Regions from separate parts of the Homo sapiens genome. Here region 1 is linked to region 2. Evidence: fine-mapped expression QTL. A gene starts in region 2. The other region holds a variant in brackets. All regions are shown on one strand. Distances are between the middles of the regions.

Region 1 (9,821 bases), 20 kb before region 2:
CTAAAATGTATATATGACCACCTAAAGAAACCAGTAACACTAAAGAAGATTTATATCTATTAACTATGAAATTTGGTTGGCATTTCGTTTCTTAAACATTTTTATTTTGAAATAGATTCATAAGAAGTTGAAAAAAACCACTACAGAGGAGCATGTATCCTTCCCTGAGTTTTCCCCAATGATTACATCTTCCATAACTGGTATAATACCAAAACCATGAAATTACCATTGGTATAATGGTGTGTATAGTTTCATGACACTTAATCACACCTGTATATACATTTAACTACCATCACAATCAAAATGCAGAACTATTGAGTCACCACAAAGATCTTCTTCCTCATTATAGTCACATCCACACTACCCCCTCTCCCATCCTCAGTCCCTGACAACCACCAATTTATTCCCCATGGCTATGAGAATGTTATATATTATATAAATGAAATCATATACCATATGACCTTTTGAGATTGGCTTTTTCCCACTCAGCATAATGCCCCTGAGACTCATCCAAGTTGTTAAGTGTATCAATTCTTTGTTACTTTTTATAGCTAAGTAATATTCCATCATATGGCTGTATCATAGCTTATCATTCACCTAAAGCATTTAAGGACACTTTGGTTGTTACCAGGTTTTGGCTATTACTAATAAAGCTGCTATTAACATTCTTGTACAGGTTTTTGTGTGTACATCAGTTTTCCTTTGTTTTACTTAAATGCCCAGGAGAACAATGGCTGGATCATATAGTAAATACATGTTTAGTTTTTTTTTTTTTTAAAGAGACGGAGTCTCACTCTGTGGCCCAGGCTGGATTGCAGTGGCACGATCTCGCTCACTGCAACCTCCACCTCCTGGGTTCAAGTGATTCTCCTGCCTCAACCTCCCAAGTAGCTGGGATTACAGGCATGCACCACCACGCCCAGCTAATTTTTGTATTTTTAGTAGAGGCGGGGGGTTTCAGCATGTTGGTCAGGCTGATCTCGAACCTGACCTCAGGTGATCCACCTGCCTTGGCCTCCCAAAGTGCTAGGATTACAGGTGTGAGCCACTGCGCCTGGCCTATGTTTAGTTTTTAAAGAAACTTCAAAACTTTTTCCAGAGTGGCTGTAATATTTTACATTCCTACTAACAAGGTGTGAGAGATCTGGTTTCCCCATATCCTCACTAGCATTTGGTATTGTCTCAATTCTTTACCTACTGTTACCCTTCTGACAGGTGTGTATTTAGTTTTTAATTACGAACAACACAACATTGTTTCTGACCTGAGAGTAGAAGAGAACAGTTAGTTAGCTACATCTTGCCTATTATCAGGACATAACAGTCTACTTCTTTGAGATCGAAGAAGGAAAAGGCCTCTTAAATAAATACACAACATAAAAAGATGTAAACTGTAAAATTAGTAATGTTGAAGGGAAAAAAAGTGCAGAGCTTTTGTAGGTGATATAAATTGTTATCAGCTTAAAATAGGCTGTTATATTATAGGATATTTTATGTAAGCCTCATGACCATAAAGCGAAAACCTATAGTAGATACATAAAAGATAAAGAAATCAAAGCACACCACTACAGAAAATCATCAAATCCCAAGGAAGACAGCAAGAGAGGAAGAAGGGAATATATATAAAACAACCAGAAAACAAAACAAAATGGCAATAGTAAATCCTTATTTATCAATAATTACTTTAAGTGTAAATAGAATATGTTTGCCAATCAAGACACACAGAGTGGCTAAATGGATAAAAACACAAGACTCAACTAAATATTGCCTACAAAAGACTCACATAGACTGAAAGTGAAGGGTCAGAAAAACGACTCCATGCAAATGGAAACCGAAAGAGAACAGGAAGTACCTACACTTACATCATACAAAATAGATTTTAAGTCAAAAACCATCAAGAGACAAAGAAGGTAATTATATAATAAAAGGGTCAATTCATTAAGATAAAACAGTTGTAAATACATATGCATCTAACATTGGAGCACCTAAATATATAAATATTTAGGATTCTGAAAGGAGAAATAGATAGGAATACAAAATTGTAGGGGACTTCAAGATCCTACTTTCAACAATGGATACATCGTCCAGACAGAAAATCAATAAGGAAATGAACTTTTTTTTTCTTTCTTAAGAGATAGGGTCTCACTATTGCCCTGAGCGGAGTGCACTGGTGCGATCATAGCACACTGCAGCTTCGAACTCCTGGGCTCAAGTAATCTTCCTGCCTCAGCCTCCTAGGTACCTGTGACTATAGGCATGCACTACCATGCCTGGCTAATTTTTGTAAAGACAGGGTCTCACTATGTTGCCCAGGCTGTTCTTGAACTCTTAGCCTCAAGCTATCCTCCTGCCTCAGCCTCCCAAAGTGTTGGGATTACAGGTGTGAGCCACTGAGTTCAGCCAGTAAACACTGAACTTACACTTCAGACCTAATGGACCTAACAGAAACACATATAGTATTCCATCCAATAGCAGCGGAATGAATGCACACTCTTTTCAAGTGCACACAGAACATTCATAGCAGTATAAAATTAGAGATCAATGACGGGAGGAAAAGTAGAAAACTGACAAATATGTGAAAATTAAACCACATGCTCCTGAACAACCAATGGATCAAAGAAATTAAAAGGGAAATTGACAAATTTCTTGAGACAAATGAAAATGGAAACACAACACACCAAAACCTATGGAATGCAGCAAAAGCAGTTCTACATAAAAAAAGAAGAAAGATCTCAAGTAGCCTAACGTTACACCTCAAATAATTAGAAAAAGAAGAATAAAGCCCAAAGTTAGTAGAAGGAAGAAAATAAAGATCAGTGGAGATAAATTAAACAGGGACTCAAAAAATAGAAAAGATTCGCAAAATGAAGAGTTGGTTTTTTGAAAGATAATTGACAAACCTTTAGCTAGACTAAGAAAAAAGAAGACTCAACTAAACAAAATCACAAATGAAAGAGGAGACATTACAACTGATTATCACAGAAGTACAAAGGATCGTAAGAGACTATGAATAATCATATATCAACAAATTAGGTAACCTATAAGAAATAAATTCCTAGAAGCATACAACCTACCTATACCAAATCATGAAGAAACAGAAAATCTAAACTAACCAATAAAAAGGAGATTCAATCAGTTTAAGAAAAAAAAAAAAACTTGCATCATAGGAAAGCCCATCTGTAATGACATCACTGCTAAATTCTACCAGATATTTAAAGAACTAATACTAATCCTCAAACTCTTCCAAAAAACTGAAGAATACCTCCAAAGTCATTTTGCAAGGCCAGATTAATCTGATACCAAAGCCAGAAAAGGACACTACAAGAGAAGTTACCAGCCAATATCCCTGATAAACAGATGCAAACTAGCACATTAAAAGCATAGTACACCATGATCCAGTGGACTTTATCCCTGGATGCAAGGATGGCTCAATACATGCACATCAATGTGTTACACCATATTAACAGAATGAAGAACAAAACTATATGATCATCTCAATACAGAAAAGGCATCCAACATCCTTTCATGATAAGAACTCTCAACAAATTAGGTACAGAAGGAATGTACCTCAATATACTAAAGGCCATATATCACAAGCCCACAACTAACATCATACTTAGCAATGAAAAGTGGAAATCTTTTCCTCTTAATCAGGAACAAGACAAGGATGCTAACTCTCATCATTTCTATTCTACATAGTTCTGGAATTCCTCGCCAGAGCAATTAGGAAGAAAAAAGAAAGGCATTCAAATTTAAAGGAAGAAGTTAAATCATCTGTTTGCAAATGACATGAACTTATGTACAGAAAACCCTAAAGCCTCCACCAAAAAAACTATTAGAATAAACAAATGCAGAAAAGGTGCAGGATACAAAATCAACATACAAAAGTCAGTAGTGTTTCTATACAGGAAAAACAAACTATGATCTATCTTAAAAAGAAGTCAAGAAGACAATCCACTTATAATAGCATAAAAAACCCCACTTATGAATACATTTAACCAAGGAGGTGAAAATCCATACACTGAAGACCAGAAAACACTGATGAAAGAAGATGAAGAATATCTACATAAATGGAAGGATATCCAGTGTTCATGGCTTGAAAGAATTAATATCGTTAAAATGTCCATACTACCCAAAGCAATCTACAAATGCAATGCAATCCCTATCAAAATTCTAATGGCATTTCCACAAAAATACAAAAAACAGTCCTAAAATCTTGTGGAACCATAAGAGATTCCAAACGGCCAAAGCAATCTAGACCAAAGAGTAAAGCTGAGGGGCACTGCACTCCTACTGGCATTAAAAAACACAGCAGCCAATGGAACAAAACAGATAAAATAAATCCAGGCATTTAGAGTCAACTGGTGTCTGACAAACATGCCAAGAACAAACAATGGGGCAAGGACACAGTCTCTTCAATAAATGGTGTCGGGAAAAATGAATATCCACAAACAGAAGAATAACATTGGAGACTTATCTCAAACCACATACAAAAATCAACTCAAAATGGATGAAAGACTTAAAATGAGGGACCTGAAACTGTAAAACTATAAGGAAAAAAATGAGAAAAAAGCTTGACATCGGTCTGGGCAATAATTTTTTGGCTATGACCCCAAAAATGTGGGCAATAAAAGAAGAAATAAATGTAACATCAAACTGAAAAGTTTCTGCATAGTACAGAGTGGATAAACACAAACTAACCAACCTACTGATTGGAAAAAAAATTTG[T/C]GTATACAATAGGGGATAATATCCAAAATATATAAATAACCCAATACCAAGAAAACAAATACTCTGATTAAAAAATGGGCAAAGAACCAGAATAGATATTTTTCAAAAGAAGACATACAAATCAGGAACAGACATATGAAAAAATGCTCATTCAACATTACTAATTCATCAAGGAAATGCAAATTAAAACAAGATCACCTCACGCCTGTTAGAATGATTACTATAAAAATGCAACTACCATATGCAGCAATCCCACTTCTGAGTGTATATCCAAAGGAACTGAAATCAGTATGTTGAAGAGAAATCTGTACTCTCATGTTCATGGCAGCATTATTCATAGCCAAGATATGTAATCAACGTTAAGTGTCCATCAATGGATGAATGAATAAAGAAAATGTGGTACATATACAGGTGGAATACTATTCAGCCTTTAAAAAGGAAATCCTGACATTTGCAACAACATGAATGAACCTGGAGGACATCATGCTAAGTGAAATCAGTCAAGCAAAAAAGAAAAATAGTGCAACATCTCACTTACATACTGAATCTAAAGAAGTTGACTTCATAGAAGCAGAGTAGAATGGTGGTTGCCAGAGGCTGGGGGAGTGAGAGATGGGAGAAATGGGGAAACGTTGGTAAAGGGTACAAAGTTTAAGTTCGCATGAGTAAGTTCTGCAGATCTATTGTATGGCATGACTGCAGCTAATGTATACTTGAAAATTGCTAAAGGCCGGGTGCGGTGGCTCATGCCTGTAATCCCAGCAATTTGGGAGGCTGAGGCAGGTGGATCAGGAGGTCAGGAGTTCAAGATCAGCCTGGACAACATAGTGAAACCCCGTCTCTACTAAAAATACAAAAATTAGCCAGGCATGGTGGCACGCGGCTGTAGTCCCAGCTACTTGGGAGGCTGAGGCAGGAGAATTGCCTGAACCCAGGAGGTGGAGGTTGTGGTGAGGCGAGATCGTGCCACTGCACTCCAGCCTGGGCAAAAGAGTGAGACTTGGTCTCAAAAAAAGAAAAAAAAAAAAAAAAACAAAGAAAAAGAAAATTGCAAGGAGAGTAGATTTAATGTTCTCATCACAATAAGTTGGTAAGTATGTGAGGTATAGCTATATTAGCTTGATTTAGTCATTTTACAATGTATACCTATATCAAAATATCACATGTACACTGTAAATATTTGCAATTTTTGTCAGTTATACCTTAATAAAGCTGAGGGGGAAGGAAAAGGCCAAACTGATCACTTATACTGGCAAAAATACAAAAAAGCTGCTTTTCTCTCCAACTTCTAATAACACAAGGAGAAACTACATGTCTTCTAGAACATTGCTAATTAGTACCTAAATTAGATTCTAATTAAGGGATAAGTAATGACTATTTTGCCAAAAATATTAACCTTCACTAAGCCACATGTTTAAAAATTTCAGTTTATAGATTTGTTTACTTAAAATCACTAGACTTTATAATCCAGCTGTGTTAATGACTACATGAACATAAAAGACTGGCTTACCTATCCTGTTTATACAAAGCAAAATTCCAAATATTAATGGAAATAAATAACTTCAATTATCCACTAGGTCAAGGATATTTCAGTAGGAAGAGTGTCATTAATGGTAGCAATCTTAAATGCTGAGACTTCTCCCAACTTTTCTTTATTTTGCCTGCAAATTATGCCAATAATTTAAAACAAATATACCATACCTGTTTGATGGGTTCTGCAATTAAACACCCAACTACTCTCTTTTCATCAGATATAAAAAGAAAAGTTTTTATTTTGTTTGGACATTTAGGAACAACTTGCTGGAAGCCCAATTCATTATCAACAAGTTCTTGGACATCTTCTACCTAATGATTTTAAAAACCAAGACAGGTGAATGTTTTAAAAAGTACAATAGAAACTATACATATTTATATACACAGAATGTATGATTACTGTTACTTTAGCCTCTTTAATTTCTATTTCTTAAATTTATACACCTCCAAAATTATTTCACTATTGATGCATGTAGCTGCTACTGTGGAAACAAGGTTTTAAGAACCTATTTTAAAGATCACTTTCAGCAGAAATTGAGACACCTGGGAGGGATAAGGAATAGGAAGCATTAAAACAGATTTGTTTTAGCTTTATTCATTATTCACGGTGGCTAAACATTCAACCTCAGAAACACAAGCAACACCAATATAAGAAATAGACCCTGGGGGCCATTAATTTCTCAACATTGAAAGCTTAGTTTATCTTTCACAAGGGAAAGATGAATATAAAAGATAAGCTGTGGAGCCTTATCTGCCTTCTTTACTCCTTTGTCCTACAATTCTTAGTTTTGTATAAATTGCTATGAAAGTAATCATTAAGCAGGTACCCAAGTGAATTATCTGTCAGCAAAGGCAGTTTGCACTTCAACATAGGTTGATTTCTTGGGGGTGGGGAAAGGCAAGAGATAAAAAGATAATGTTCCATACCTTTTTGATAGCAAAGCTTGGATCATGTGGCAGAACCAACACGATTTTCCCATCCCAAAACTCTGCTACTACACGTTCTTTCTTCCAACCCTGCCAAAGGAAAACAAAAGGGTCACAGTTTAATTTGTGAAGAGGAAAAAAAACCAACATTAAATAATTTGATGTGGAGAAGACAAAAGGCTAAACAATAATAGATATAAAAAGAAGAAGATGAAATCCAACTAAAAGTAATGTGGGAAGAGAAATAAAAGATGCCTAAAACAGGTATCTGGCCTCAACAAGCTGATATCCTATCTGAAGACATGTATATGACTATAAAACAAGGTAAAGAGGTAAAGGTGCGGTGGCTCACACCTGTAATCCTAGCACTTTGGGAGGCCCGGGTGGGTGGATCACTTGAGGTCAGGAGTTCAAGACCAGTGGGCAGGTAGGGGAGGGGTAGAAGAATAAGCCAAATTCCAAGAAAAGGCTAAGTAAAAGTCCTTATACGTTTGTCCCTTATGCTTGACAAGACCACAGATGGGTGCAGTCTTACAACTATTTTAATCTCAACCCCCAGCATAGTGCTTTGGCATGTGGCCCTAGTCTTTGAATGATACTGAAATATTATGGTACTGAAAAGGGTTTAAAAACCTTGGTAAGATGTCAGTGAGCATAATGGGGAAGGTGGTTAACTTGCCTTCAGGCTAAGGCAACTAACTGAATAAGCAAAGGTGCAGAGAATGGCAAAAAAATCTGGTATAACTGACTGATTGGAAAAAATGAGGTTGAAATATTAGAAATAAATTTAATAAGATCCATGACAAAACTATAAAATGTTCCTGAAAGACATCAAAGATATGAATCAATCAGAGGTATACTAAGTTTCTAAGTATACACTAGGTTTATACTACAGTATATACTAAGTTTATATAATAGTATGTGCTATACTAAGTTCCTAAGTTATACTAAGATTTTTTTTCTCTAGAGAAAATGGCATTAGTTTGACTAGTTTGAATAAAAATTCGAATAGGTTTTTCATTTGGGGGGAATGTGATAGGCTTTTTAATTGAAAGAGTAAATGTGCAGAAAAAGTCAAGACATTTTTTACAGAGAAGGATGAAAGGGAACTTACCTAACTATACAGTATGAAGCTACATTTATAAAAGTATGGCACTAGCACAGGAACAAATGGATGGTGCAGAAGTGTCCAATAACAAACCCATTTATATGTGGGAATTTGGTATGCATTAAACGTGGCATTGCTAATCAGTGTGGAAGATAAACTAGTCAAACAGTAATGTTGGCACACTTTGCAGTCCTTTAGGAAAAATATAAGGATCCATCTCTAACACTATGTCTTGAAAAAATTCCAGTGGATTAAATGTCTAAATATAAAATTTATAGCTATAAATTTTTTTAAATATAGGAAAAACTTACTAATTTTGGGACTGAGATGATGTTCCTGACTTAAGAAACCAAAGGTCACAAACTAGCTAAATAAAAATGTTTTCTTTGTAGCAATATACACCACAAAAAGGTTAAAAAAATCCAAGTAATGGTATTTGCTTGTATATGCAGAAAATATCTCTGAAAGATATATAGATGAATCTGTTAATGCTGGATGCCTATAGATAGGGGAACGAGGTTTCTGGAAGGGGTATGGAGAAACACTTTTCACTGGATATACTTTTGCATTCTGTGAAATTTGAATCATGTGAAAGTATTACTATATCAAAAATATAAATTCAAACCTTAAAAAAAGGGACAGGGAGAATGTATTTGTAACCCAGGAATGATATTCAAAATATATAAAGGATAACATGCCCAGTATGTTTCCACAAATTAAAGAAAGAAATCCCGTATGGTATAGTCTGGCTTCATCAGAGAATGTGGCTTATTCCAGCGGCAGGAGCTTAGAGCTGGAGAGGGAATGTGTCATGTGACAAGGTGGGCAGGGGCCAAATATGAAGAGATCTGTCAGCCAAGGTAAGGAGTCTGGGTTTTATTCCTAGTGCAACAGAAAGCTGTCAAATTTGAAGCAGACAATGTCAGAACCTATGTTTTAGAAAGAACTTTCTGGCTGATGTAGAGATCAGATCAGAGAGGGCAAGAATTTAAACTACACACATACACACTTTCTCTTTTGTATGTATTTTATATGCACATATATAGGAAAGGTTGAGGCCAGATTAAAGAGCACCAAACTTCTGGTGGGAACTTTTTCTTTCCAGAAGTATGTAGAATCATACTAGACTTATGTTTCATCTATGGCTTTTTTTTTTTTTTTTTGAGATGGAGTTTTGCTCTTGTCACCCAGGCTAGAGTGCAGTGGCACAATCTTGGCTCACTGCAACCTCCACCTCCTGGGTTCAGGCGATTCTCCTGCCTCAGCCTCCCGAGTAGCTGGGATTACAGGCACCCGCCACCACGCCTGGCTAATTTTTTGTATTTTTAGTAGAGACAGGTTTTCGCCATGTTGGGCAGGCTGGTCTCAAACTCCTGACCTCAGGTGATCCACCCACCTCGGCCTCCCAAAATGCTGGGATTACAGGAGTGAGTCACTGCACCCGGCCTAGACTTATGTTTTAAAACGTTATTTCTGGTAGCACTATGGGAACCCAGAAAGCAAGCCATTTCAATAAACAGGCTAAAAA
Region 2 (17,312 bases):
AAGAATGGCATGAGCTGATATAGGATTCCACAAAAGCTTACTTCAGCAATAATTACATATAGAAAAAGAGACTGAATTAGATAAGATTCATCTCAACCTCAACATGAACTATGAGATGAAAGGTAAGGGAGGCCAAGGCGGGTGGATCATCTGAGGTCAGGAGTTTGAGACCACCCTGCCCAACGTGGCGAAACCCCGTCTCTACTAAAAATACAAAAAAATTAGCCGGGCATGGTGGCAGACACCTGTAATGCCAGCTACTTGGGAGGCTGAGGTAAGAGAATCGCTAGAACCCTGGGGGCAGAGGTTGCAGTGAGCTGAGATTACGCCATTGCACTCCAGCCTGGGTGAGAGTGAGCCTCTGTCTCAAAGAGAAAAAAATTGCACTCTAATTGGTTATTTCTCACAGGGGTATGAATTAACAATTATGAAACTGTTTTACATGTTTACTGGGACAGAACAAATAAGTAGATGGATAGTGAATAGTAGGAACTAAGTGTCTCACTGTCCGAGAAGGAAGTTACAGATGAAAAAAGGATAGAATAAATCCTGGAGTACTGGATTAGAGTTGGAAATATCAACGTCCAGCTGGCAATATGCAAACAAAGAAATAAGACAGAAAATGTCACAGATAAGACTAAAGACACATGACAATTAAACGTAATATAGTACCTTGGAATGGATACTGGGACAGAAAGAAAACATTAATAGAAGATTCCAAATAAAGTTTAGAGTTTAGTTAACAGTAATATACCACTACCAATATTTGGTGAACTCCAAATAAAGTCTAGTGCTTAGGGCCAGGCACAAGGGCTTATGCCTGTAATCCCAGCACTCTGGGAGGCTGAAGTGGGGGGATCACTTGAGGTCAGGAGTTTGAGACCAGCATGGCCAACATGGTGAAACCCCATCTTAACAAAAATTAGCCGGGCATGGTGGTGGATGCCTGTAATCCCAGCTACTTGGGAGGCTGAGGCGGGAGAAATGCTTGAACCCTGGAGGTGGAGGCTGCAGTGAGCCAAGATGGTGCCACTGCACTCCAGCCTGAGCAACACAGTGAAACTCCATCTCAAAAAAAAAAAAAAAAAGTCTATACCAATACAAGTTTCTTAGTTTTGACAAAAGTATTATAACATAAGATGTTAAGAATGGAGGAAACAGGGTAAGAGATACACTGCTACTCTCTGTACTTTAACTTTTCTGTAAATCTAAAATTATGGCAAAATAAAGTCTATTAAAAGAAAAGAGCAAAGTTAAAACAGCAATTGATTTGAGGAAAATAGTAAGCTGAGAGTGGGCTAAAAAAACAAACTTTAACTTTGCATTGAAAAATAATTAGAGCTCATCCTCTAGAAACAAGGCCAAGGCAGGTGAAAGTCTGAGCTGCTATTGGTAAGTTACTTAACCCAAGTCCATTTCCTCATCTATAAATGGGCATATCAGGACCTAGAGTAGTAGGGAGAATTAAATGATAAACTGTAGTTATTAAGTAATAAAGTTTTGGTCTTTTTATATTACTTTTATGATTTCTCCCATATCCTTATACCATTTGTATTATTTTTATTCACTATTTTTCTTTAAATTGACTTAGACAATGTACTAAAATATATTTTAAAAGAAAAATTTATAACTATTTTAAGTAGATGCCTTTTTGTTATATTTTCTATTGTATCAGTGCTTTGAGCACAATCTATGAAAAACATAACGTATACTAAATATTTAGCACTGCCTTATATTCAGCACTCAGTAAATACTAGTTATTAACATCATATCTCAGAATCATAAAAAAAAGCTTTATGTATTCATAGTTTAGTAAGCTATTTAATTGAACACTGACAGCATAAATTAGGAATAGGATTTCAGAATTGACAGGAATTTAAAAATTAACTTTAACTCTTTAGAGATATCTTCCTAGATCATACAGCTAATTATTAGTAAACCTAGACAAAAATCCATGGTTCTTGATGCTTAATTTCAGTGTCACTTATAAAACTTAGTAAGTTCTGCTCACAATTGGGCTTTGATCACAAATATACATAATAGTTTTAACTTCTATTATTTTGGGTGAAAGATAGAGTAGGTATGATTTTATAATGAGAACACTCAACTCTAGAGAGCTTAAGTAACTTGGCCACAGCCATAGACCAATTAAGCCTAATATTTTGTCTAAAATTTTAACCTAGGATCTCCTTGTTTCTTGTTTTTCAAAACGCAATGCACTGCTTTACTACAGAAAACAGTGTCACAGAGATAAACAAAGATACTAACCACAGGCACGCTACTGAAAAAAGAAAGACCCAGAAATTACAAGAATTATTATTGTATAATGTATGTAATAAAGCATTATTTTAAGCAGCTAAATTCATGCGAGTTTTCTCTTACTTGTCTTATTCTCACCAAGAGAATCCTCTGAAGAAAAAGCCTCATTTTTATCAACTTTATGTTCCTTTGAAGAAACTCTGTCATCTGATGAATCCTGAAAATAGGTTTAAAAAAAAAACCAAACATCTGTAATTTTTAACTATTTTCTAGTGAATGAATCCCAGCAGATCTATTTCTAAAACAAAAGATTTGGTTTATTATGAATTACATTTCATAATGTGATTTTCAATCAATTTTCAAACTATTTTTAGGAAAACTTCCCCTGTATTCACTAAGCGTACATTACCTTTAAAGCCAGAGTACAGCAGGGCCCGGTGGCTCATGCCTGTAATGCCAGCACTTTGGGAGGCCGAGGTGGGTAGATTGCGAGGTCAAGGGATTGAGACCATCCTGGCTAACATGGTGAAACCCTATCTCTACTAAAAATACAAAAATTAGCTGGGCGTGGTGGCACCTGCAGTCCCAGCTACTCGGGAGGCTGAGGCAGGAGAATTGCTTGAACCCAGGAGGCGGAGGTTGCAGTGAGCCAAGATCGTGCCACTGCACTCCAGCCTGGCAACAGAGCAAGACTGTCTCAAAAGAAAAAAAAGCCAGAGTACACGTGTTGTAATCTGTCATCCTCTCAAAAATGTGTTATACTTCCTGACAGAGATGGCAGAATGATTACAGACCATCACTTCCATAATGAAATGAACAAAAAAGCCAGTAAAAATGGCAAAAGTTTCCCCAGCAGCCACCAAACTGGAAAGGGACAACTTTTTGCCATAAACTTTAAAAATCAGCAGCTAAGGAAAGAACATTCTAGAGTCACTGGAGAGTAGCAGGAATGTGGGAAAAGCAAAGTAGAAAAAAATCCTGACAGATTTCCCTCATACTAATTTGGGAATTACTAGGGAATATATAGCTTGGGGAAAAAGGAAAAAAACTCTTGGTTAAAGTAGAACTTCTACTCAAAACCATAATATCCCAGCAGAGGTGGGATAACCCATCAGTTTAACACTTTTCAGGGCTCCATGAGTTGGGGAAAGGGTATCCTCACAAAAATCAGATTCACCGGCCAGGCGCGGTGGCTCACACTTGTAATACCAGCACTTTGGGTGGCCAAGGCAGGTGGATCACAAAGTCAGGAGTTCAAGACCAGCCTGGCTGAGAGGGTGAAACCCCGTTCCTACTAAAAATACAAAAATTAGCCAGGTGTGGTGGCCGGTGCCTACAATACCAGCTACTTGGGAGGCTGAGGCAGAGAATTGCTTGAACCTGGGAGGCGGAGGTTGCAGTGAGTTGAGATCATGCCACTGCACTCCAGCCTGGGCAACGGAGTGAGACTCCATCTCAAAATAAAAAAACAGAAAATCAGATTCGCCCTTAGCTAGCAGAGACGAATCCCAGACATGGGTATTTAGCAAAATCTTGAAAGAGCATAGCCCCGTTCCACAAATTTAAAATGCACAAAAGCCCAGCTTCCCAAACTACTGAAAACTAACTCAATACCAAACCCGTAAAGTGAAGCTAAGAAAAAGAAAATAAGACAGAAAAGAGAATTACAGAATTCTCTGTTACACTGGTTACAGAGAATTCATCAGGTCACCATTCATTTGGTACACCACCAGGCTGTACCAAACAGATAAGAATAATCATCAGGAGATGCATGGGGAAACTGCAGACTCTTCCTTTGTTTTACTGGATTGAGACAATTTTAGCTTGAGTTACGCCCCAAACTTTCAAAAAACTTAATTTTCATACAAATGTATAAGTATAAAGCACAGTTTAATACATTTTGATAAAGCTTACTCTTGTAATCAAAATCCCTATCAAGACACAGAAGTGTTTTGTTGATATAAACAGAAAATGAATTAGTAAAATTAGACTGTCATGGCTTAGCTAGCAAGAACGTATCTCATTTAACAATCTACTTGGCCATACTCGATAAACAGGAAAAAAAACAAACATTTACAGTGAGGACTAAAAACTTAAATGCCTTACAAGGGCAGCAGTAAGTAAAATGATCAAAACTAAACTGATCTAAATAGATAGATATACACTGACTTAGAGAAATGAAGAACCCATATTTGTCAAATGGTATGATACTCAGCCTGATATTCAGCTCTGATTATTGCCATGTAGAAATGAAGGCTCAGCTTTCAATATTTCATGAGACACCAGAAATGTTTTTCTTGTATTTAAAAATAATTTTGGCTCCAACTTTTAAATTATGTAGGCCAAGCAAAACATTTATGGGTGAGATTTGGTTTACTGGCCACCAATTTATTATCTTTGCCACTGAGGTTTGAAATTTAGGTGATTACGAGAGATATGGACTGGGGTTGAATTTGAGAGAAACTAGTGAGGAAGGCAATGATGAGAGGTGGGTTAGGAAAGACATGACTATAAGCCTGAGTGTACTGGGTATCATATAAGCCTATCATTTCTCCAGCTACAAGGGTTGTGATGAATATAAACAAGCCACCATACATGGAAGCCCTGATCTGGAGACAACCTCTCTTAAGGTTGCTTCAATGGCTTTCTGCCCCTAGCTGCCCCACAAAACTCAACTTTTTTTCTGATGAAGGATATAAACAGGAGGTCAGCAACAGAAGTTCTAGACCAGCATGGTCTAATATGGTAGCCACCAGCTACATGTAACTATTGAGAACTTAAAATGTGGCTGGGCCAGGTGCAGTGGTTCACACCCATAATCCCAGCAATTTGGGAGGGTGAGGCAGGTGGATCACTATAGCCCAGCAGTGCGAGACCAGCCTGGGCAACATGGTGAAACCCCAGCCTCTACAAAAAATGCAAGAATTAGCCGGGTGAGGTGGTGTGCATCTATAGTACCAGCTACTTGGGAGGCTGAGGTGGGATTGCTTGAGCCTAGGAGGTTGAGGCTGTAGTGAGCAGTGTGCCACTGCACTACAGCCTGGGTCATAAAGAAAGACCCTGTCTTAAAATAAATAAATAAATAAACTCCTTACAGTAACTAAACACTATGCTATCTGGCTTTATAAAAGCAGTCCAGAAAATAAAATTTTATTCAACTATGTCATTTATACTGAAGTTTTGTTATACAGCCATTTTTAAAGTGATATATTTAGCTTTACCTTTATTAATTTCTCTTTATTTTTACTGCTTGCACTCAGTAGTCCAATTTTCAATTTCTCTTCTAGGACCAAGCACTTTGGCACTTGCCTTGTCGCAAAAGTTTTTTTTTCACTGACAGTCTCTACATCAGAATCTTCAATGACTTCTGATTTACTCTTTTGGGTGCGTCCCAGTGACGGCTCATTTTCCAGGGACGATTTTCTAAGAGAAGATTTTTTTCTAACAAAAAATGCTGCTCCACCCTGGAGTGTAACTTGTGGTTTTATTTTTTGGCTCAGAACCCGAGGAGCATTGGAATTATTTTCAGCTGAATGACAATTATTTTCCTTCTCCACAATTGGCTTATAGATCACTCGATTTTGCTTGGAATTTCTAGAATTCCTTGATACAGGCTTGATGTGTCTATACTTTGGTTGATACTTAGCAGTTAAACTCTTCTGTGGTTTTTTGTTGTTCTTCTTGGAGCAGACTGGTTTTCCTTGCATTTTTTCTGTCACAATGGGAAAAGATTTATCTTCATCATTAGTTTTTAGACAAGTAGATCTACTCTCTTTTATCAGCTTTCTCTCCAGTGGATTGAGGTACCACTTATTTTGGTTGTAAAAAGATACAGTGGAGAGCGCAGATTTAAATGGTGAGCCTTGATTTGCTGATGGCAGTCTATTTATTTCAGTTGTTTTGAGCGCACTTAAAACAAAATGCTCTTGTTGAGAGCAATGCAGGTTTTCTTCATTTTTATCACTGTTTTGATAAAAACAGTGCTTTTTATTAGGTGATGGAAACAGATTTTCAGTGAAGTGTAAAAGGCTATAAAAAGAAACAAAGTCCATTGATAAGATTATTTTGCGTCAAAATTTACATAAATCTACTGCTAAGTAAGCTCTACTTGTAGGTCATATTAAAAACAATACATGTACCCCCCATACACACAATTTTCTATTAGTTTAACAGTAGGATTCTCAAATTCTGTCTTTATCAAATAAAACATTCAAATATCTTCCCAAAGAGTTCATGAAAACAAATACTATATACAAAGAAGCTATGATAGACATATATGCATGTATGTTTTAAAATCGATTTCTATGTGTTGGCCATATATAAATTATAGCTCATATATTTTGCTCTATTGTTTACAAGCCCCCTATAATAACTGTCTGTAATGAACTGACCCCCTGGGGCTTTTCCTGGGTAGAGTAATTAATATCTGAGTACACAGTCTTTCTAGAATTGTTTCCAGACAAGCATCTACTGTATGCAAAACACTGTAAAATATTATAGGGGAACAGAAAGGAAAAAGGTAATAGCTGATTTGGTATATTTCCTAGCTATAGAAAACAGCTTTCTTCAATGTGCTGCTTCTATGTCAAAAGAAAAAAACAAAAACTAAAAAACAGCTTTGATTCCCTTGAAAAGGACTAAATAATTCATTATGAAAACTTAATGTATTTCCAAGCTAGAATTAGAATATAGGTTATCAGGTTATCACTGTAGCCACAAGGAGTAGGCTAGTGGAAGAACGAAAATTTTAGAAAATAGGAGAGAACAAGAGAGACAAGAAGGTGGATTTTTCTAAGAGTTTCTATTCACAGGCTGAGATTCACCTGTCACACTTCAAAGAATCCTGCTTCCTCTTCCTTGGAGTAAGAGCTGCCATTTTCTTTATTGAATTCCTAAAAGAAATGACAATAACCACATTCATCAAAATATTAAAAATCGCTTTATCAAAATTATACCCCCTTTAATTAGTCTATTTCACACCAAGTTAAAACCCTATTTTCTGGGAGGTCTTCCTCGACATTGCTCTCCTTCCACCCCTCCAAGGGTTACACGCGCTTGTTCTGCTTCCATGGCACCCTGTATTTCCCTAATAGTCCATTTAAGACATTTTCTTGTTTCCCCATCTCAACAGCCTTCAATGAAGGCAGAGACCGTCTGTAACTTTTCATCAGAGCCCAGCAAGAAAACGGGTGAAGCACAGTCCTCTGCCATTTTCCTAGCTGATGAGCCCGGAGCAAGCCGTTTGCTTCCCTTTTTATAAAAATCTCTTGAAGTCGTAAGGCTGCTGAAAACAAATGCTAGAATGCACGAGCAGGCGGCTACGTGGCTCGTCAGAATTCATTTCCTTCCCCTTCCCTGGGATCAGGGAAATTCCCCCCAAAGCAGCACACAAGCGTTATTTCAAAGCTATTAATGAATGAACAAACTGAAAGGCCAGGGTCTCTGGGAATTCAGGTCGAGCTGCGGCTTAAGGGGGGACCCCTCTGGGGCTAAGCGAGGAAAGGTAGGAGAGGAAAGCGTCCCGACCCTGAACCCGGTCAGGGAAACAAACAAACAAACAAACCCTAAACCCAAAACAAGGAAACGCCGGCGTCGGGAAGAGGGAAACCCGGCGCCTGTGAGCGCGGAGAACGAGTCAGTGGCTTCTTCGGTCTCGGGCCTGCGGACCTGCCGAGCGCCGAGCAAAAGCTCTTTCCCCGTGACATTCGCCCCCACGTTCCACAGGGTCTCCCGCTCGCCTCAGCCTTCCACAGCCCCCCGCCTCGGCCTACTCCAGAGGTTACCTGCGCCTCAGAGCCCGGCGAGCTCTCCTCAGCCTAGCCAGCCGCTCCGTGAGCGTCTTCAAATAATCGCGCGCCAGGCTAGGAGGAAGCCGCTGCGTTCCGATTGGCCACGGCTCAGCGCTTCCAGGGGCTGGCTCGGTGATTGGTGGAGCACCAGCCCTTGCCCCGCCCACCCTGGTGGCTGTTTCCAAGATTCTCGCGCCCTGGTGAGGTGAAAAATCTCTGAGGGAAACCACGCCACCCACAATCCCCTGCAGCAACGCCGGACTCCGTTCCCGGGGCCTTGTTTAGGTGCATTCTGGGAATTGTAGTTCTCGGTCCAGTTGAAGTTGAGATACATTCTGGGGTCACGGGGTAAGAAATTTTTGTAAAATGGCCTCTCCAGCCTGGCGACAGAGCAAGACTCCGTCTCAAAAATAAATAAATAAATAAATAAATAAAGGCCTCTCCAAGATTCTCGATGCACTTATTTTTCACATTTGAAGCTTCATTGTCAGTTTCACTTTTTTTATTAGTAACTTTAGGTTTCTATTTATTTTTCAAATTAAAATATAAAACTTAACACCTGCTATGTGCCAGGCATTCTTAGATGCTTTACATGTTTTGTTTCATTTACTTCTTACCACAATCTGTAAGGCATTAATATCTATTGCCATTCCCATTTTACAAATAATACAACGGAGAACCCAAAACAATTGCTATTTACAGAACAGAGCTAAATTCTTACTTTGGAAAACCAGAAAGTTCCTAAAACGGTTATTGTTAGCTATTGTTACTATCTTTGTGTCACCAGCTCCTGGTACAGTGTTTCTGGCACATTTTTAGTTTCAAATAAGTTTAGAGTTTTATGTTTATTTTTTCAAATTTAATTTTCACAAATTTGTATGTCATCCTTGAGCAGGGGCCATGTTAAAGTTCTCTGTATCATTCCAATTTTAGTATACATGCTGTCAAAGCAAGCATGTAAATAAATTTCGTTAAGTGACGCCCTCAATTTCATAGAATGAAGTCAGTGACAGTGATGTAAGAGTGTCAGTTTAAAAGGAAAAGGCTGAGGCAAAAAAAAAAAGAATGTAGAGTTTGCTTGAGTTAAAGCGGGGACAGCTGCCCAGAAGATTCCAACCCCCCTCCCCCCACCGCCCTCCACCAGCAGGCTTGGATATGAGCTCTGTCTGGCCTTTGCTACAAGCAGGTTTTTAAAGACGAAGAAGGGGGGCAGGAAGTGGGCTGATACACAACTGTCAAGCATTCTCATTGATGTATAGAAACTACAAGCATCAGTGATTGGCTAGACATTGTTAAACTATAGGGTGTGGGTCATGTCATAGTGTCTTGTGTGGCAGTGTTAGGTTAGTAGGTAGCTACCTGTGGCAGAAGCAGGTAGTTTCAGTAGATGAATACATAGCTCAAGGGGGTGGTAGAACATGATGGGGTCTTATCTTAATGCCTCTCCAGACCTAGTAATTTAAAGGGACTCACATTCCTCAGATAAAAGTGCTTTCTCAAGAGAAATAATCAGGGCAAAGCCAAGTGCTGTAGGAGCTTTACATGAATATGATTATTCCTACTTTATAGCAGGAGGACCTCTGAGGTTCAGAGGTTTGGGATGGCAGGCCTTCGATTTAAGCCAGAACAAAGTCCAATCCCCAAGAGGCATATTGTCCTGGTGAGTATCAGAAACAACTCGTTTGTGTGCTATGTTCTAAACCCTTGGCGCCCATTAACTTATTTAACCCTAAAAAATATCCTGTGAGTTAGCTGCTCTAGTATCATCTTCATTTCGCTGCTGAGGAAAGTGAAGCACAGACAGGTTAACTAACGTGCCCAAGATGCCCAGCCTCTTTCCCTTAACCCACAAATCACTGAACCAAACTCCTTGCCACTACACTTCGCCTCGCCAGGATTAAAAATGGCGCCCACGGCCGGCGTTATGACGCGCCCCGACGTCCGCCGGAAGTGCACGGAGGAGTTCCGGGGGCCAGGCGGCCGCCGCGAGTCTGGTATCCTGAGCTTCGTGAGTTGAGCGCTGCTGCTCCGCGGTGGAGTCACCGCACCGCTCCCGGGATCATGGTGTTCTACTTCACCAGCAGCAGCGGTGAGTGGGCGCCACGTCCTCCTGGACCCTGCTGGACAGCGGGCTCCGAAGCCGGGACCCGCAGTCCGCCGCTGCGCCTGACCCTCGCTCTAAAATGCCTTCTGGATGCGAGTGCCTCTTCCCGCGGCCTCTCGGTCCCCCAGCACATCCGTCCCTCCCACGGCTGCAGGATTTCCCCCGGCGTCCCCTCGTCATGGCGTGGGGGGCGCGGAGGGGCGATGCCACTGCTATGTTTGTATCGGGGAGTTCTCGTCCCCTAATCGGAAAGACGTCCCGTCACTCCCTGGGATTGGGCAGAGCCTGTGGGCTCCTCCACACACCTTATCCCAAGTCTTCTTCCCACCTTCCATCTGCGGCCTTTGTTCTGGCTGAACCCTTGTAATTATCCCCTGTGAGAAAGGAGACACCTGCTAACAACTTTTTCTTAAGGGAAGCGCGACTTACCCTTTCAGGAAGGGGTTGTAGGGTCTGGGATGCAACAGAAAACAATAAAAAGACCCTGGGATGTCCACCCAGCCACTCTCCGGGCAGTTGATGTCCCAGATCTCAGAAGTGACCTATGGTAATGCTTCTGACTTATCTTTGACAGATAAGGAAAGGGTGCCCTTCGTTCCCAGGAAATGCAGTGTCCCGACTTGGTTTCGTTCTGTTCCTGTTATTCCCCTTTCCTAAAATCAACCCCCAGCTAATTCCCTTAAGACAGTTTTGGCCCATCTTTTCCAAGATGCCTTTCCTGATGCTAGCTCCTACCCCAAGATTGCTTAGCTATTCCTTTCCTGGGACCCACTTAACGTTCCAAGTATGCCTTTGGCATTGCACTTATCACGTGGTATTAAATGGTGTCTGCTTGAGCTAGAGTGTAAGTCCCTTGAGGGCGTGGACAGGATCTCTTTACAGTAGTCCCTACTTGTCCTGTATTTCGCTTTCCGTGGTCACATCATCACAAGAAGAAAAGGAGTGAGTACAGTACAATAAGGTTTTGAGAGAGAGAGAGAGCAGAGTCACCTAACTTTTATTACAGTACGTTGTTATAATCGTTCTATTTTATTATTAGTTATTGTCAATAATCTCTTACTCCACCGAACTGATACATTAACTTTATCATAGGTATACATATATAGGGAATACCAGTAGCCATGCGTCCCTTAATGACAAGAATACATTCTGAGAAATGCTCCATTAGGCGGTTTCATTGTTGTAGCAACACGGTAGAGTATACTTAAACCTGTGGTATAGCCTACCACAAATGTAGGCTGTACAGTATACCGTTGCTCCTAGGGTACAAACTTGTACAGCACGTTGCTGTACTGAATGGCTGTAGGCAATGGTAACGCAATGGTGTTTGTGTATTTAAACGGGTCTCAACGTAGAAAAAGTGAGTTGCACCACGCTGTTATGATGGCTACCAGGTCATCAGGCAATAGTGATCAGAATTTTTCAGCTTCGTTATAATGTTATGGGACCACCATAGTATGTGTGGTTTGTTGCTGACCAAAGCATCATTATGTGGCAAGTCCCTTTATATATGGAATTCAGTGTTGTCCTCGGTTTCAGGCATCTGCTGGAGATCTTGGAAGACATCCCCCACAGATAAGGGGGGACTACTGTACTTGTTTCCCTAACGTAGTGACTGGTTAGTAGTTCTCAATAAATGCTTGTTGAATAAATGAATGCCATTTTTTTACTTACTTATAGCACTTTCTATTCTATTGCTACTCTATATGCTTGTTAAAGGTGAGTTTTTTGTTTTTGTTTTTGTTTTTTTTTTTTTTGGAGACGGAGTTTTGCTCTTGTTGCCCAGGCTGGAGTGCAATGGCACGATCTCGGCTCACTGCAACCTCTGCCTCCCGGGTTCAAGCGATTCTGCTGCCTCAGCCTCCTGTGTAGCTGGGATTACAGGAATGCGCCACCAAGCCTGGCTAATTTTGTATTTTTTTAGTAGAGACGGGGTTTCTCCATGTTGGTCAGGCTGGTCTTGAACTCCCGACCTCAGGTGATCTGCCTGCCTCAGCCTCCCAAAGTGCTGGGATTACCAGCATGAGCCACTGCGCCCGGTCTAAAGGTGAGATTTATTTTATTTATTTTTGAGACGGAGTCTTGCTTTGTCACCCAGGCTAGAGTGCAGTGGCACGATCTCAGCTTACTGCAACCTCCATCTCCTGGGTTCAAGCGATTCTGGTACAGCTAGGATTACAGGGACCAGCCAACATGCCTGGCTGATTTTTGTATTTTTAGTAAAGATGGGGTTTCATCATGTTGCTCAGGCTGGTCTTGAACTCCTGAGCTCAAGTGATCTACCCACCTTAACCTCCCAAAGTGCTGGAATTACAAAAGGTGAGTTTTTGTTTTGTTTTGTTTTTTGTTTTTTTGAGATGGAGTCTCCCTCTGTCACTCGGGCTAGAGTACGGTGGTGTGATCTCAGTTCACTGCAACCTCTACCTCCTGGGTTCAAGCAATTCTACTGCCTCAGTCTCCCAAGTAGCTGGGATTACAGGCACACGCCACCATGCGTGGCTAATTTTTGTATTTTGTTAGTAGAAACGGGGTTTCACCATATTGGCCAGGCTAGTCTCGAACTCCTTACCTCAAGTGATCCACCCGCCTCGGCCTTCCAAAGTGCTAGGATTAAAGGCGTGAATCACCACGCTCAGCCAAAAGGTAAGATTTAAGTGAAACTAGTTCCACATTGTTTGTGTGGGTTTGAATAAGGCAATACTTTCTCTTTAGAAGTAAGATTGAGGCTCAGGGAAGTTGTAACTCACAGACCCTACTCTTCCACCTTCATCACACTGACATCTCCTTATTTTTCTCAGTAGTTTAGCCTTCCACAGTGTGTGCCATGAGCTATTTCTCTGTCTCTGTACATGTGGTTTGTTTTACCCATATTATTAAAATTACTAGAAACAAAATTCAAAACCAGCCTGAAAAATCATATACCCTTATAGGCCTCTAAGCATTTTCGTCCTTGGCAACTCAGGCATCTCTTTATAACTTCTCCAGTTGTGAATCTTCAACAACATAGATATCCATATAAACCCAACAATGGAAAAACAAATATACAGGCAGGGTGTATAGGTACTGAATGTATTTTGTGCTGTTCTATTCCCCTTAAAGTTACTCTGAATTCTTTAAGTGTTAGTCACACATACACATCTGCCCTTAATAGAGCAAAATGCTTCACTAGATTTGTGGGTCCTGTTTTTTTTTCATTGACTTCCATTATAATGTCAGAACTGTTTCCTGTTAGAAAAATATTTGGCCTCTAAGCCTAATAAAAGTGCACTTGTGCAGCTGATCTTTTAAAACTGCAAAGTTAATGGAAAAATCATAACTTTCTCAGTAAAATAGTAATGAGACTTTACATATTGGCAGTATAGAAACAACAAATATATAGAATCTTCAGGAAATGAATTTGTATGGCTTGCCAAGTTTTTAACTAACTGATGGTTTTTACTGCATAAAAACTTTTTTAAAATGGGAAGAAAATCTTCATAGGAAGTTGTTCTTTTACATTTTAAGATTAATATCTGACTAAAATGTGTTCCATTTTCATTCTTTCATGCTGTCTCATAAGGGAATAATTGAACATTAGTCTAATAAGTCCAGTGTCACATTTAAGACCATCTGATTATAGATACTTGGCTCAAAGTCCACTTGTACTTTTAATACCTGTTAATATCATCTGCCTAAAAGTAGATTGTTCTATAAATTGTGAAATAATCAGATCACCTCTGAAGTTGGGTTGGTTGCTACCCGTAAGTCAAGTGTCTTCCAAATAACCGGTTCCAGTACTAATCAACCATATTATTTAGATGAGAATAACAAATGAACTAGAATAATTCAGTTTACTTTTCCTTCTTAACATGGAAAGGAACTTAATTCAGACTTGTTGTGCAGCAATGATGTTCCTTTTTATTTTTCATTTTCTTTTCTTTTTTTTTTTTTTTTGAGATGGAGTCTTGCTCTGTCTCCCAGGCTGGAGTGCAGTGGCATGATCTCGACTCACTGCGACTTCTGCCTCCTAGGTTCAAGCGATTCTCTTGCCTCAGCCTCCTTAGTAGCTGGGATTACAGGCATGTGCTACTACGGCTGACTAATTTTTGAATTTTTAGTGGAGACAGGGTTTCGCCATATTGGCCAGGCTGGTCTTGAACTCCTGGCCTCAAGTGATCCTCCCGCTTCAGCCTCCCAAAGTGTTGGGATTACATGCATGAGCCACTGCGCCCAGACTAATTTTCTATTATGACATAATTTCAGTCTTTCAGAGAAGTTGCAAGTATAGTAAAAGATTTCCTGTATATTCTCCCAGAGTCCCCCAATTTTTTTTGAGACAGTCTTGCTCTGTCACCCAGGCCGAAGTGTAGTGGCAAGTGTAGTGGTGCAGTCACAGATCATTGCAGCCTCAACTTCTTGGGCTCAAGTGATCCTCCCACTTTAGCCACCACACCCAGCTAATTAAAAAAATTTTTTTTTTATAGAGACAGGGTTTCCTCATATTGCCCAGGATGGTCCCGAGCTCCTGGGCCCAAGTAATCCACCTGCCTCAGCCTCCCAAAGTGGTGGGATTACAGACGTGAGCCACTGTGACTACAAATTCTGACATTTTACTACATGCCTTGTCTTTCTTTTTCCGTTTCTCTTTTTCTCTATTTTTTTCTCTTGCACACACCTTTTTCCTGAAACGTTTGTAAGTTGCAGTTAACCCCTGAATGCTTCAGATTTATTTTCTAAAATCAAGGGCATTCTCTTCTCAAAAGACGTTTTTCATCATCAAAATTAGGAAATTAACATTGCAGCAATGCGATTATCTAATCAACAGGCTTTATTCCGTACCCATTAGTGTCCTAATGATGTATTTGTAACAAAAAATACCTTACAAATCATTGTTGCATTCTTCAGGTGTCATTATTCTGTAGCCTCCTCTAATCGCGAGCAATTGCTCAGTCTTTGTCTTTCATGGCATTGTTAGTTGAATTATTTTGTAGAATGCCCCTCACTTTAGGTTTGTTATGGCCATTTTCTTAATCACCTCATTTAATAAGTCAACCATCAAAACATTCCTCTATTATTATTTTGGCTGTAGCTTAGACAGCTTGGCCTGCAGAGACAACTTTATTAATATTTTATATCAGTTATTATTTTTTCTTTTTTGAGACAGTCTTGCTGTCACTCAGGCTGGAGTGCAGTGGCATGATCTTGGCTCGCTGCAACCTCTGCCTCCCAGGTTCAAGCAATCCTCATGCCTGAGCCTCTCCAGTAGCTGGAACCACTGGCGTGTGCCACCACACCTGGCTAATTTTTGTATTTTTAGTAGAGATGGGGTTTCAACATGTTGGCCGGGCTGGTCTCAAACTTCTGGCCTCAAGTGATCTGCCCACCGCGGCCTCCTGAAGTGCTGGGATTACAGGTGTGAGCCACTGCACCTGGCCTATATTGTTATTTTGAAAATTCTGTTCTAATTACAAAAGCCATCTGTATGTTTTATAGCAGGCTAACCAAGGTAACTGTTGTTAAAAAATGTTTATGCTTCCATACATATGAAGTATGTGCTTATATAAAAATAAAACATGTATGTGTATGTATATACACACACATACCATTATAATCATTTATTTTTTATAAATTGAATCATATAGATACACAAAAATACTGTTCGGATATTTAATTTCTTCACCTGCCGTTTCTTTTTAATGGGTACATGGTATTTTGTTTATGGATGTTCAAATCTGTAATATATTTAAAGAGTCTCTATTAAGGGATGTTTAGGTTGTAAAAAGATTATTGCTTGGTGGAGTATTTTGGTACTCTATTATGGTAACATTATAGGTAGTGACGTTATAGGATTGAAAGGGTATACACTTGAACTATTGCCAGGCCATGCAGAGAAAATCTGAAATGCTTTTTAGTTTTATTCCCACCCTTTTGGCATTTGTTACACGCTACACTAAGGCCTGATCAAGGTACTACAATGCTCAATAATAGACAAGCATTTCTATAAACTTGGCGATGCACACATTCTTTCAAGGTACTTTTCTCAACTACTTCTGGACTTCAGTTATTATAAATGTTAAACAAAGGAATTAGTTTTCTCTCCCCCGAGAAAGGCAACTAGGATTGATCATTTAAGAAGCTTCTCATTACTGAAAGTACAGGGCATCTCTCTGATATAAGGCTTTTTAATTTAGGAGAGCGTATTGCCCTTTGTCCTTCAGGGCTCCAGGTACATGTGTGTGTTCTGTGCTGTGGAGTGATAGCCAGCAGGCTGTTCAGCCCAACCCTGCACTTATCAGTACTTTGCTTCAGTGTGTATTTATTTTTCAGTACTTCTCCATCACAGGCTTTGTAGCCTGAGGGCCCAGTGTCTATGAATTCAGGAGTTTAGTCCAATTGGATCAAACAAGTTTTGGTAAACTAGCTTTGAAACCTGGCACTCAGTTATCCTTTCAGTAGGAATCCAAGGTAGGGACGTCTGCAATAAAACACCACCTTGGTAAAGCAAATATCATTTCTAGGATAAACCATACCCAGAAGATTCCATTTGAGTTAGGATAGTTGTTTCTAACCCTGACCTTATATTAGAATCACTTGGAAGGCTTTTAGAAAACACAGATGCTCACTCTTGCCCACCAGAGATTTGGATTGAGTTGATCTGAGGTGGAGCTGGGGCATAATTAGATGATTCTAATGTAGATCAGGGGTCAGAGTCACTGGTTTAGAAGTTGGAGAGTCATGGTCTCCCTGAATGTGATAGAGAGCCTGTTAGAATATGCAGCACACCTGGAATATGGGTAATATTGGCTAAAAACAATTATGCACAATAAAACTTTGGTAAACATGGGAACTTAGTTGTGGTGTTTAGTTTTCTTTTCTTTTCTTTTTTTTTTAACTCTTAAAGAAGGCAAAAGTATAGGACTGGACTGGCGATACCATTGAACTGTAACCCTGAGAAAGTAGGAAAGTAGCTATTAGTAAGGATGGTAAACTTTCTCTTTTGGGGCCAGATAGTAAATATTTTAGGCTTTGTGAGTCACCTACAATCTCCGTGGCTTATTCTTCTTTGTTTTGCTTTTTTTCCAACCCTTTAAAAACGTAAAAACCATTCTTAGCTCAAGGGCTGTCCAAAAACAGGTGGTAGGCTGGATTTGGATCATGGGCCATGGTTTGCCAGCCCCTAG

What was found.
Region 1: its variant is fine-mapped to the expression of CCDC25 in whole blood (TOPMed, PIP above 0.99). The same link has a PIP of 0.9 or more in blood mononuclear cells.

The regions. Positions count from the first base shown.
Region 1 is chr8:27,789,417-27,799,237 of GRCh38, reverse strand. ESCO2 (establishment of sister chromatid cohesion N-acetyltransferase 2) reads right to left here. Exons shown (of 11, transcript NM_001017420.3): 8 at 7,186-7,275; 9 at 6,427-6,570. Among named protein-coding and RNA genes, the nearest start is that of ESCO2, 20 kb to the right of the region's middle. The variant T/C (reference allele first, on the strand shown) is at 4,726.
Region 2 is chr8:27,765,338-27,782,649 of GRCh38, reverse strand. It overlaps CCDC25 (coiled-coil domain containing 25), which reads left to right and starts at 10,010. Exons shown (of 9, transcript NM_018246.3): 1 at 10,010-10,137. The coding sequence starts at 10,110. ESCO2 (establishment of sister chromatid cohesion N-acetyltransferase 2) reads right to left here and starts at 8,096. Exons shown (of 11, transcript NM_001017420.3): 1 at 8,043-8,096; 2 at 7,083-7,151; 3 at 5,481-6,288; 4 at 2,383-2,476. The coding sequence starts at 7,135. It also overlaps the pseudogene RNU6-1276P. RefSeq lists a silencer at 8,039-8,208 and enhancers at 8,319-8,468, 10,017-10,326.